Regions from separate parts of the Homo sapiens genome. Here region 2 is linked to region 1. The links come from fine-mapping of genetic effects on gene expression. Tissue or cell type: lymphoblastoid cells. Region 1 holds a variant in brackets; the other region holds the start of a gene. All regions are shown on one strand. Distances are between the middles of the regions.

The links. PIP is the estimated chance that this variant, and not a neighbour inherited with it, causes the effect.
Region 2: it holds the start of KLHL23, and the variant in region 1 is fine-mapped to the expression of KLHL23 in lymphoblastoid cells (GEUVADIS, PIP 0.91).

The regions. Positions count from the first base shown.
Region 1 is chr2:169,535,872-169,541,905 of GRCh38, forward strand. FASTKD1 (FAST kinase domains 1) reads right to left here. Exons shown (of 15, transcript NM_024622.6): 10 at 4,180-4,308; 11 at 2,142-2,270; 12 at 1,356-1,469. Among named protein-coding and RNA genes, the nearest start is that of KLHL41, 29 kb to the left of the region's middle. RefSeq lists a silencer at 1,569-1,717. The variant CAAA/C (reference allele first, on the strand shown) is at 2,804.
Region 2 is chr2:169,731,398-169,736,235 of GRCh38, forward strand. KLHL23 (kelch like family member 23) reads left to right here and starts at 2,435. Exons shown (of 4, transcript NM_144711.6): 1 at 2,435-2,690; 2 at 3,616-4,830. The coding sequence starts at 3,618. All of the region lies in intron 3 of PHOSPHO2-KLHL23 (PHOSPHO2-KLHL23 readthrough), which reads left to right. RefSeq lists silencers at 2,306-2,745, 2,766-2,835, 2,946-3,125.

The sequences.
Region 1 (6,034 bases):
ATAGAGATATCTAGTTCTTCTACTTAACAATCCTTCAAACATTTTAAAACATTATGGTCCCCATAAGACTTCTATTTTTCAGACTAAACATCCTTTTTTTTTTTTTCAAGTAAGATTTATTGGGCTGGGCACAGTGGCTCACACCTGTAATCCCAACACTTTGGGAGGCTAAGCTGAGGCAGGAGGATCGCTTGAGCCCAGGAGTTTGAGACCAGCAACATAGTGAGACCCTGTCTCTATAAAAAAATTAAAATAAAAATAAATTCATTGAGCACTTACTATGTTCCAAGGATAGTGTTAAATGCTTTACATGCAATATCTCAGTTAATCCTATCAAGTAGGCATTATTATCCCCATTTCACTGATGAAGAAGTTAACAAGGTTCAGAAGAACTTGCTCAAGGATTGAAATCCATGCAATCCTAGTCCTCTCTAGTTCTGTCTACGACATGATTAGACAAGATCCTTCACTATCTGTCCTCCTTTGTTTCTAGACCCTAATTGTCACTGTCTCTTAAAAAGGACAACATGCAAAAAATATATATATATATATTAAGGTGTCTAAAAAATAGAATACAATGGGATTACCAACTTTTTTGTTATTATTAACAATATAGTTTAAATAGTATTTGATTTTTGGCTACCATTTACACTGTTAGTTTATACCAAGTTTATAATCCTTTTAAATATCCTGTATATGCAGAGGTTTTCTAAACCTAAATTTAGAAAGTTTATGTTAATTATCTTGAAATTTTATCTTTTTCATTTAAGATCACCACTTGAATGTGGCAATATCTTTGAAAATTTTATATTGCCATCAACGTAAGCTAGTCCACCAGCTTTATGTGATCCACAATTCAATCAGAATGCATTCTACAACTAGACCAGTTGAGAAACAAGATTAATCAGGTTAGCATCAAGCACAGTATCTTTGGAAATCTTTATCCAGGCTGATAGACCAACTTAGTTTTTCAGATGAACTTAAAACAATGAAATAGAAATTAAAGAGTCATTTCCCTTATTTTCACACACTGAATGGAGAGGACAGAATCTTTTGAAGATCCAGAAATGTTCAGTGAATCTGAATCTGGGTTTTACTTAGAATTGGTGGAGGACTGACCTTAATTTTTTTTTTTTTTTTTCTAAAGAATAGAAAACGCTCTTGGTTATCAACACTGGGCCACGGGAACTTGAGGATTTATTCTATTGCTCTTTCTATCTCCGTTTGAAAATTTTAATAATAATAACAACTTGAAAAAAATTCAAAAAACTTTAAAAAATTCCAACTGATAAGATGATTCTATTCAAATTAGTTTGATTTTCTGAAAGTAACTAATAACCTACCCAATAACTTACCTACTTTGTGGTAATAAGGCGTAAGAACCGAGGCTTTTACACAATTGATTCCTCCTAGTACCTCTGCTAACATTTTAAAAATCTGCTGTTGTGTTCCATCCATGCCACCAATACCTTTATAAAAAAATAAATAATTAGTCTACTTAATCTTTTTTTTCTTTTTTTTTTTCCTTTGAGACGGAGTTTTCGCTCTTGTTGCCCAGGCTGGAATGCAACGGCGCGATCTCAGCTCACTGCAACCTCTGCCTCCCCAGTTCAAGCAATTCTCCTGCCTCAGCCTCCCAAGTAGCTGGGATTACAGGCATGTGCCACCACGCCCAGCTAATTTTGTATTTTTGTTAGAGATGGGGTTTCTCCATGTTGGTCAGGCTGGTCTCGAACTCCTGACCTCAGGTGATCTGCCCGCCTTTCAGCCTCCCAAAGTGCTGGGATTACAGGTGTGAGCCACCGCGCCCGGACTTAATCAGTTTTTTAATGAAAATCATCCCAGTTCTACAAACTGAAAAATAAAGATTAATAATTTCAATAAGAGCTTCAATGTAGTGTCTTATATAATGACACTAAATTCAATACAAGTTCTTTGCTCTCAACTAGGAGGGTTATGTCCCAAATATGAAGAAATTCTTATAATGTTTCACCTACAATATCTCATATAAAATATTAAACAGGTCATGGCACTCTTGGGAAGGCTCGTGTCATGTTTAAGTATAACAAGATTAACAATGTACTACCTAATAATTTACTTTAGAATCAAACTTTGCTATCTGACTAAAAGAAAACTCAAACCTTTATTATATTGTTGACAGAAGCGGTCATGAAACCATGGAATCTGAAACTCAGGGCATTCCAAGCAGACTGATCTATTTAACTCCATAAGATGAAACTGGACTCTTGCACTTCGAGATGGAGATAAAACTGAAATTAATAAAATACTAATGAATTTTGATAGCTGAGACCTAGGAAAGACAACCCATTTTTTTCACATTCATTTATCCCCACTATTAGTAGATGCTTTTATTCTAACAGTATTTAGAACTGTTTACATTTCTAATTTACAAATGTATGCTTTATATTTTTAAATTATTACATTCAGTGACATGATTAGGACCAACTCCTGCACTGTTCTCATTAATCATGAACGTTAAAAGTACATTTAAAAAATACTCCCAGCAGGGCACGGTGGCTCATGCCTGTAATCCCAACACTTTGGGAGGCTGAGGTGGGCGGATCACCTGAGGTCGGGAGTTCAAGACCAGCCTGACCAACATGGAGAAACCCCGTCTATACTAAAGGTACAAAATTAGCCAGGCATGGTGGTGCATGCCTGTAATCCCAGCTACTCAGGAGGCCAAGGCAGGAGAATCGCTTGAATCCAGAAGGTGGGGTTTTGGGTAACCAAGATCATGCCATTGCACTCCAGCCTGGGCAACAAGAGCAAAACTCCGTCT[CAAA/C]AAAAAAAAAAAAAAAAAAATACTCCCAAGATTTTTCATTCACCTAATATTCCACACTTAGGATTTTATCCTAAGGAAACAATGATTCATGTATAACAAATCATTACTTACAATGATGAGGAATTGGAAACAATCTGTGACAAATTTTATTATATCCATGTAACAGGATATTATGTAGCCAATAAAAAAAGACATCAAAAAATATTTAATAATATGGAAAATTGCTCAAAATATAGTTAGATGGAAAAAGGCAGCATATAAAAGTGAATATATAAATAATCCAAATTTTGTTTTAAAATTCATATAGGGGCCAGGTGTGGGGGCTCATGCCTGTAATCCTACCACTTTGTGAGGCCAAGGTGGGCAGATCACTTGAGGTCAGGAGTTCAACACCAACCTGGCCAACATGGTGAAACCTCGTCTCTACTGAAAACAGAAAAATTAGCCGGGCATGGTGGCACATACTTATAATCCCCGCTACTCGAGAGGCTGAAGCAGGAGGATCAATCACTTGAAATGGGAAGGTGGAGGTTGCAGTGAGCTAAGATTGAGCCACTGCACTCCAGCCTGGGAAACAGAGCAAGACTCCATCTCAAAAAAAAAAAGAAAAAGAAAAAGAAAGAAATGTAAAATAAAATAAGTCTTATAGGGACTGGGTACAGTGGCTCATGCCTGTAATCCCAACACTTTGGGAGGCCAAGGCAAGAGGATCACTTGAGGCCAGGAGTTAGAGACCAGCCTGGGCAACATAGCAAAACTCTGTCTCAAAATATAAAAATAAAAAATTTAACAAATTAAAATTAAATACAGGCTGGGTGTGGGGGCTCACACCTATAATCGCAGCATCTGGGAGGCCAAGGAGGGAGAATCACTTGAGCTCAAGAGTTTGAGACCAGCCTGGGCAATACAGTGAGATCCCAGCTCTTAAAAAAAAAAAATTAGCTGGGCATGGTGACACACGCCTGTGGTCCCAGCTACTTGGAAGGCTGAGGTGGGAGGATCACTTGATCCTGGAGTCCAAGGCTTCAGTGAGCTATGACTGCACCACTGCACTCCAGCCTGGGCAACAGAGTGAGACCCTGTCTCAAAACAAAACAAAAAAACACAGATATATAATCATTCACATAGGAGAAGGAGAAAGACAAAAAAGAAATACTCCAAAACATTAAAAGTGGTAGTTTTACTTGTTAGTAAGATGGGTAATTTTTTATTTTCTATTTTATTCCTGTGTTTTCCAAATTTCTACAATAAGCATGAATACTATTAGAAACAGAAAAAAGTTATTAACATTAAAATTCTTCAGTATAGATAGACCTGAGACTTGGATATAAAGTACAACAGATAATTAAATAAATTAAAAGATAGATACATACTTTCAAGTTGAGAATCCAATCTAGCTAAGAATTTGATGTTAAAAATTGCCTTTAGCAGATCTTCTGGAAAATATTCAAGTGTGGCCAAAGAGAAACCAAGAAACACTAATATAAAAGGATCCAATATACCTAAAAGAAAATTAAGATTTTTTTAAAGGTATAGCTGCCTCACTTATATATACACTTATAATTTATTCAGGCAAACCCAGGTTTTTAAAAAAAAGATACACAGCCTTGACAAAACTAATCTACACTGTTACAAGACAGGATAATGGTTAAGTGGTTACCTTTGGGTGTGAGCCAAGTAGGAAAAGGGGACAAGAGGAGAAGGGTACTGTGATAATACGCTGTGTCTTGATCTCAGTACTGATTCCCTAGGTGATTCAATTTGAATAAATTCACAGTATTATACTAAAGTTATACGAACATTTGTTATTACACTTTAGTAAGAAGTTTTAAAAATAGCCTTGGAAAAAGAATCCAAAACAAAAGGACAGTGGTGCATGTAAAAAGAAGTGATCCCAGTGTTGATGATAATAATACAATAGTGTTCAGAATATGTTACATACCATTCTAAACACTTTAGATATATTAACTCACTTATATCTTATATCAGTAGAAACAATTATCTCCACTTTATAAATAAGCATTAGGAAGCAGAGAGGTTAAATGACTTGCCCAAGATCAGAGTTGGCAGCGGAGAGTAGGGTTTAACCCAGAATGTCCAGCTCTGGAGCCTGGATTATTATACTATGCTGCTCTCTGGGAATCTCAGATCTCCAAGCAGAGTGTACACATGTTTGAGGCTGAGGTCTTGCCTAGCACCTGCTCCTTTACTTGTCACCCAGCAGCATGGCAGATGCCCCACAGTATAAGGCTTCAACTATTTACCTGATTTGCCTCATCCAAGAGACATTTCTAATGTGGCGGAAAGGGTCACCTAAAATGCCTGACTGGCATAGGTATTCTTACTAAGGACAGAAGAGACAACATTAAATCTTTCCTTTTCAATTTTTTCTAAGTTTATTTAATAAAGAAAGACCAGATCATAAATGAAGTTAATAGTGATGATTTCTACCAGCAAAACTAATCTGTCAAAATTCGTCTTTACTCAAAACAATGAAAATTATTACTCCATTAGTTATTTAAAATTTTACTTATAAAGTTCCCTAGGAATTTTTAAAACTTTCTCTGATTAAGTTTTAAAAACTCAAAGCTGTACTTCTCAATCTTTCTTTCCTTATACTCTTTAGCAACAAAATTTTCTAATTTCTAAGACTCTATTTGGAGAACCTGGGAAGAGATGCACTTTCATTTCCTTCTGGTTGTCAACACATGACTGAACAACCAGGAGAATACAGTCTAAGTCTCAATTTAAAGTCTCATCTTTCTACATATAGTTGTGTTACTAAAAAGGGGTATAAATGTATACCATACATGCAACACATTCATATACATATATACATACATATATCCCAGCCTCACGTTGTAGGCTGTGACACAGTAGTATCAGACATGGTTAGATGCTGTCTGGCCCATAGATCCCACAAAAATGTAGCAAAGTCCATTAGCATGATGCAGACACAATTAATATATTTATACTTGCTTCATACCAGCTTCACCAGAGGTCTAAAGATCTATATAAATCCCTAATGTAGAGCCTAACATGTTATGCTGGATATGGAAGCTCTCAGTATCTGTTGCTTGGTAGATAACTGGGTAATTCTTACTCTCCAGGCAGAGCAAAAAGATCTGAGGAAACCAGTCTCTGGCTGTCTCTCCAACTTTATCTCCTACCAACTCGGTCTCCCTCATCTACTCCTGCCACACTGAATCCACTGTTCCTGGAAAAAAA
Region 2 (4,838 bases), 190 kb after region 1:
AGTAGTAATTCACAACCAGGGAACATCACGAAATGAAAGCAAGAGTTTTAGTTGGTTCATGCAGCCATCTGAAATAACTGCATAAATGAGAATATAGTGAATTCTATTATTCATGAATCATTTATTATTACATGTAGTTATGATTCCAGAAGCCCTTACTCCAAGTTAGATGGAGCCTATATTTTTTTATACATCAAACTTGGCAAACAGTAATTATAGCTGCAAAAACAGCCATCTCTACACTTCAGTGACAAAAATGGAGAGAAGTCTCCTTCAATCAGTCACAATTGTGTCCTTGAATGGCAACAGTGACAACAGCATCACTATCAGTTATGAAGGGCAAGCTATAATTACTATTAACTATGAAGTTCATAATTTCTGAAGAAATGTTAAGAAGATGCTAATTTCCAAATTAAGGTTGTGATGCAGAATTAAGTGTAAATATTCTTTCATTATAGTAGCTAACATTTATATATCAAGTCCTAAGTGCTTCATTATTAATTTGTCTTTCCAATAACCTTAGGTTAGGTTGAGAAAGTATCCATGTTGTCTGTGTTTTACAGATCTGAAGACGAAGGATCAGAGAAGTTTAGTAATTTGTGAGAGGCTATATGTTGGATAAGTGGCAGAGATGAGCCTTAAGCCCGAAACTAAATCTCATATGCTTTCCTTTTCTAACTATACTGTTTACCAGATGTTGGGATGTTAAACTTTCATCCTTCTTCCTTTTGGGTCCAACACATTCTCTTATTTGTCCATAAGAATCACCTGCTGCCCTTGATTAGAATGCAGATCCCTAGGTCTCCACCCCGCAGACGTCTGTGCGTGGGGTGTGGTAGTTGTGGGGGCTGCATAACCAGCATCTTACATAATTCAATTAAGATGATCTGACTTGTGGAATTAAACTAAAACCCACCCACAGGAGAACCAACAGATGCTATTTATTCAGAGTTTGCTGTAGAAGGGAGTCCCACTCACCATCACTTTGTCAGAGGCTCAAAGGTGGGGCAGACGAGTGGGAAAGCTTTATAGAAGTGAAGAAAAGCCCCCGGTATGCTCTGATTGGAAGTTGTTGGCATGGGAAAGCTGCAGGTGGGCTACTAGAAGCGGGGGTATTTTATGTGATGGGTTTGCGGAACATATTTGGCTTTCTCTGGTTGGTGCAGAGGTGGAACTAGGGGTAAAAATAGGGAAGTTGCACTTTGGAAGTCCCAGGCAGGAAGATCGCTTGAGTCCAGGAGTTTGAGACCAGCCTGGGCAACATAGTGAGACCCTGTCATGAAAAAATATTTAAAATTTTTCAAAAATTGCACATCTGTAGTCGTAGGTACTTGGGAGGTTGAGGCAGAGGATCTCTTGAGACCAGGAGATCGAGGCTGCAGTGAGCTAAGATCGTGCGACTACATTCCAGGCTGGGCAACATAGCAAGACCCTGTCTCAAAAAAGAAAAAAAATAGGGAAATTGCCAGTCGTTGACTACTTCCTGACTGTTCTGGTTCAGCTGCTACCAAGGTTGTGGTCTGGCTTCCTGGGCTTCTTATGTGGTTCAGAGTTCTGTTGTCACATACTATCTGGCCATTCATGTATATTGCGTTTCTGAGACCATACTCTGGGAAACACATGGTCCTCTGGTGGTGGTGAAGGTCCCTGTGAGCTAGGGACCATCTGTCAACACTCTTATCACTACTAGTGTCTATCCCTATCAGGCACTAGAAGCACTTAATAAAATCTTGCGAATGAATGAATGAATGATATACAAAAATATTTGATACTGGCTTTAGTTGGAACAAGAAAATGAACTTTGTGTACCACATAGACATCTGTGACTAGAGTGGCCGTCACCAGAAAGGCTGCTCCTTCCAGCTGCTATGCTCTAAATACAATAACCTGAATCTTAGCACGACTGGACTTCGCCTGGACTTCGCCTTGGCCCCGGCTGCCCAAAGTTTCTCTCAAAGCTTCAGCTTAACCCCTGATGTGCTCACCAGCACCAAGGCGCCCTCCTGAGTGCTTTGCTGGGGGTGGGATGGCGTTTGTGGGAAAGGCCGGCTACTTCTGGCATTTCAACGGCGCCTCCAATCCCTGACCTTTAGTTGTGCCCCATTCTCTCCACTCTTTCCCCCTTCTCTGTCCTCACGATTGAGTCTGGGCTGGCGAAGCCTACTGAGGGAGGGGAGTGTACACACATGCACACGCGCGCGCGCGCACACACACACACACACACACACACTCATATATGGTGTTATTAATAATTCAGGACTCAGAGTTTATCTAAGAGAAGACGCTCGACCGGGTGTGAGAGAGCGCGCGGGACAGAGAGCGAGCCAAGGAAGGGGAAGGCGGCGGCGCGCGCTGTCTCCTGGGGAAGCAGTCCCACCTGCTGTGGGGGGCGCCGCTGGGGAGGGGCCGAGCCGTGCTCACGCCTGCACGCCCCGCCCCGCTCGCCGCACGGCCCGGCGACGGGGGAGTTCCCGCGAGTGGCCTCGCGCCCAGACCGTGCGGGGGGCTGTTCGGGTGGAGGCGGGGGAGCCGCCGGGACACCAAAATAGGAGCTGCTTGTGGGGTGGAGCGGCACTAGCTGGCGGCTTCCGAGCGCCTCTTCCAAAGATGGTCAGAGGGGCCGGAGGCGTCCCCGCTCCCGCTCGCTACTAGCCCGCGGGCCAGCGCCGCGTCCCGAGCCCCGGCGGGAGGTAGGTGCGGTGTGGACCCGCAGCCCGAGGCCGGCCTGCTGGGAGCGAGCGGGGCCGGGCGCGGGGAGCGGGGCCGGGCGCGGGCAGCGGGGCCGGGCGCGGGCAGCGAGGCCGCGCGGGAGAGGAGCGCAGACAATGGCCGCGCGGGCGCCGGGCCGGGCCGAACGCGTTGCGCTGGGGCTGCCTGCGGCGTCCTTCCCACACCTGCGCGGAGCGCCGGGCAGAGGGACGCGGGCACCGGGCCCGCGGGCGGCACGCGGCGCCCTCGAGTCCAGCCCCGCTCCTGGCCCCGGGGCGGGGCGGTCTCCGGGCGGGAACGTGGGCCGGGGCCCAGGCGCGGGGCGCGCGGAAACCCCTGCGGCGGGCGCGGGGGAGGGGGCGAGGGCTGCAAGGGCTGCGCCGAGCTGCCTTCCTTTCTCTCCTTCCTTAAGCGAAAGGGCTCGGGATTTCCCTTTTCCGAGACCTCTTCTTGTCCATTTATATTTCCATCATCCCTTTCTTGGCATTTCGATGTGATTTGAAAGGGAGACGAGCTTGGGGAAAAGGTTGAATTGGGGCCGAGCCGAGACAGCTGAGGTCCGGCCTCGAGTGGGGTGACCCTCGGACACTTGCCTTGCCTAGTGTGGGATCTCATCTCCGAACGCCAGGCCAGGGTAGATTGCGGTGAATGGAATAGCAAATCAGTACTCTCAAAAGGACTACTGAAAAATCCAGGAGCCTCATTTCAAGCTCCGAGCTACCCTGAATTTAAATTGACCACCATATAAATGATCAAACAGTCCATCCACATTTTGCATTTATTATTTAGATGCTGAACTTAGTCCAGTTTTGGAGTATATCCGATGATAGTCAAGTTATTTAGCGTTGATTATTTGAGAGAATGTGCAACATTGAAAACACATTTGTTATTTCATATTTATTGCAGCCATGGCTCTAAAAGGACAAGAAGATTATATTTATCTTTTCAAGGATTCAACACATCCAGTGGATTTTCTGGATGCATTCAGAACATTTTACTTGGATGGATTATTTACTGATATTACTCTTCAGTGTCCTTCAGGCATAATTTTCCATTGTCACCGAGCCGTTTTAGCTGCTTGCAGCAATTATTTTAAGGCAATGTTCACAGCTGACATGAAAGAAAAATTTAAAAATAAAATAAAACTCTCTGGCATCCACCATGATATTCTGGAAGGCCTTGTAAATTATGCATACACTTCCCAAATTGAAATAACTAAAAGAAATGTTCAAAGCCTGCTTGAGGCAGCGGATCTGCTACAGTTCCTTTCAGTAAAGAAGGCTTGTGAGCGGTTTTTGGTAAGGCACTTGGATATTGATAATTGTATTGGAATGCACTCCTTTGCAGAATTTCATGTGTGTCCAGAACTAGAGAAGGAATCTCGAAGAATTCTATGTTCAAAGTTTAAGGAAGTGTGGCAACAAGAAGAATTTCTGGAAATCAGCCTTGAAAAGTTTCTCTTTATCTTGTCCAGAAAGAATCTCAGTGTTTGGAAAGAAGAAGCTATCATAGAGCCAGTTATTAAGTGGACTGCTCATGATGTAGAAAATCGAATTGAATGCCTCTATAATCTACTGAGCTATATCAACATTGATATAGATCCAGTGTACTTAAAAACAGCCTTAGGCCTTCAAAGAAGCTGCCTGCTCACCGAAAATAAGATCCGCTCCCTAATATACAATGCCTTGAATCCCATGCATAAAGAGATTTCCCAGAGGTCCACAGCCACAATGTATATAATTGGAGGCTATTACTGGCATCCTTTATCAGAGGTTCACATATGGGATCCTTTGACAAATGTTTGGATTCAGGGAGCAGAAATACCAGATTATACCAGGGAGAGCTATGGTGTTACATGTTTAGGACCCAACATTTATGTAACTGGGGGCTACAGGACGGATAACATAGAAGCTCTTGACACAGTGTGGATCTATAACAGTGAAAGTGATGAATGGACAGAAGGTTTGCCAATGCTCAATGCCAGGTATTACCACTGTGCAGTCACCTTGGGTGGCTGTGTCTATGCTTTAGGTGGTTACAGAAAAGGGGCTCCAGCAGAAGAGGCTGAGTTCTATGATCCTTTAAAAGAGAAATGGATTCCTATTGCAAACATGATTAAAGGTAAGTGG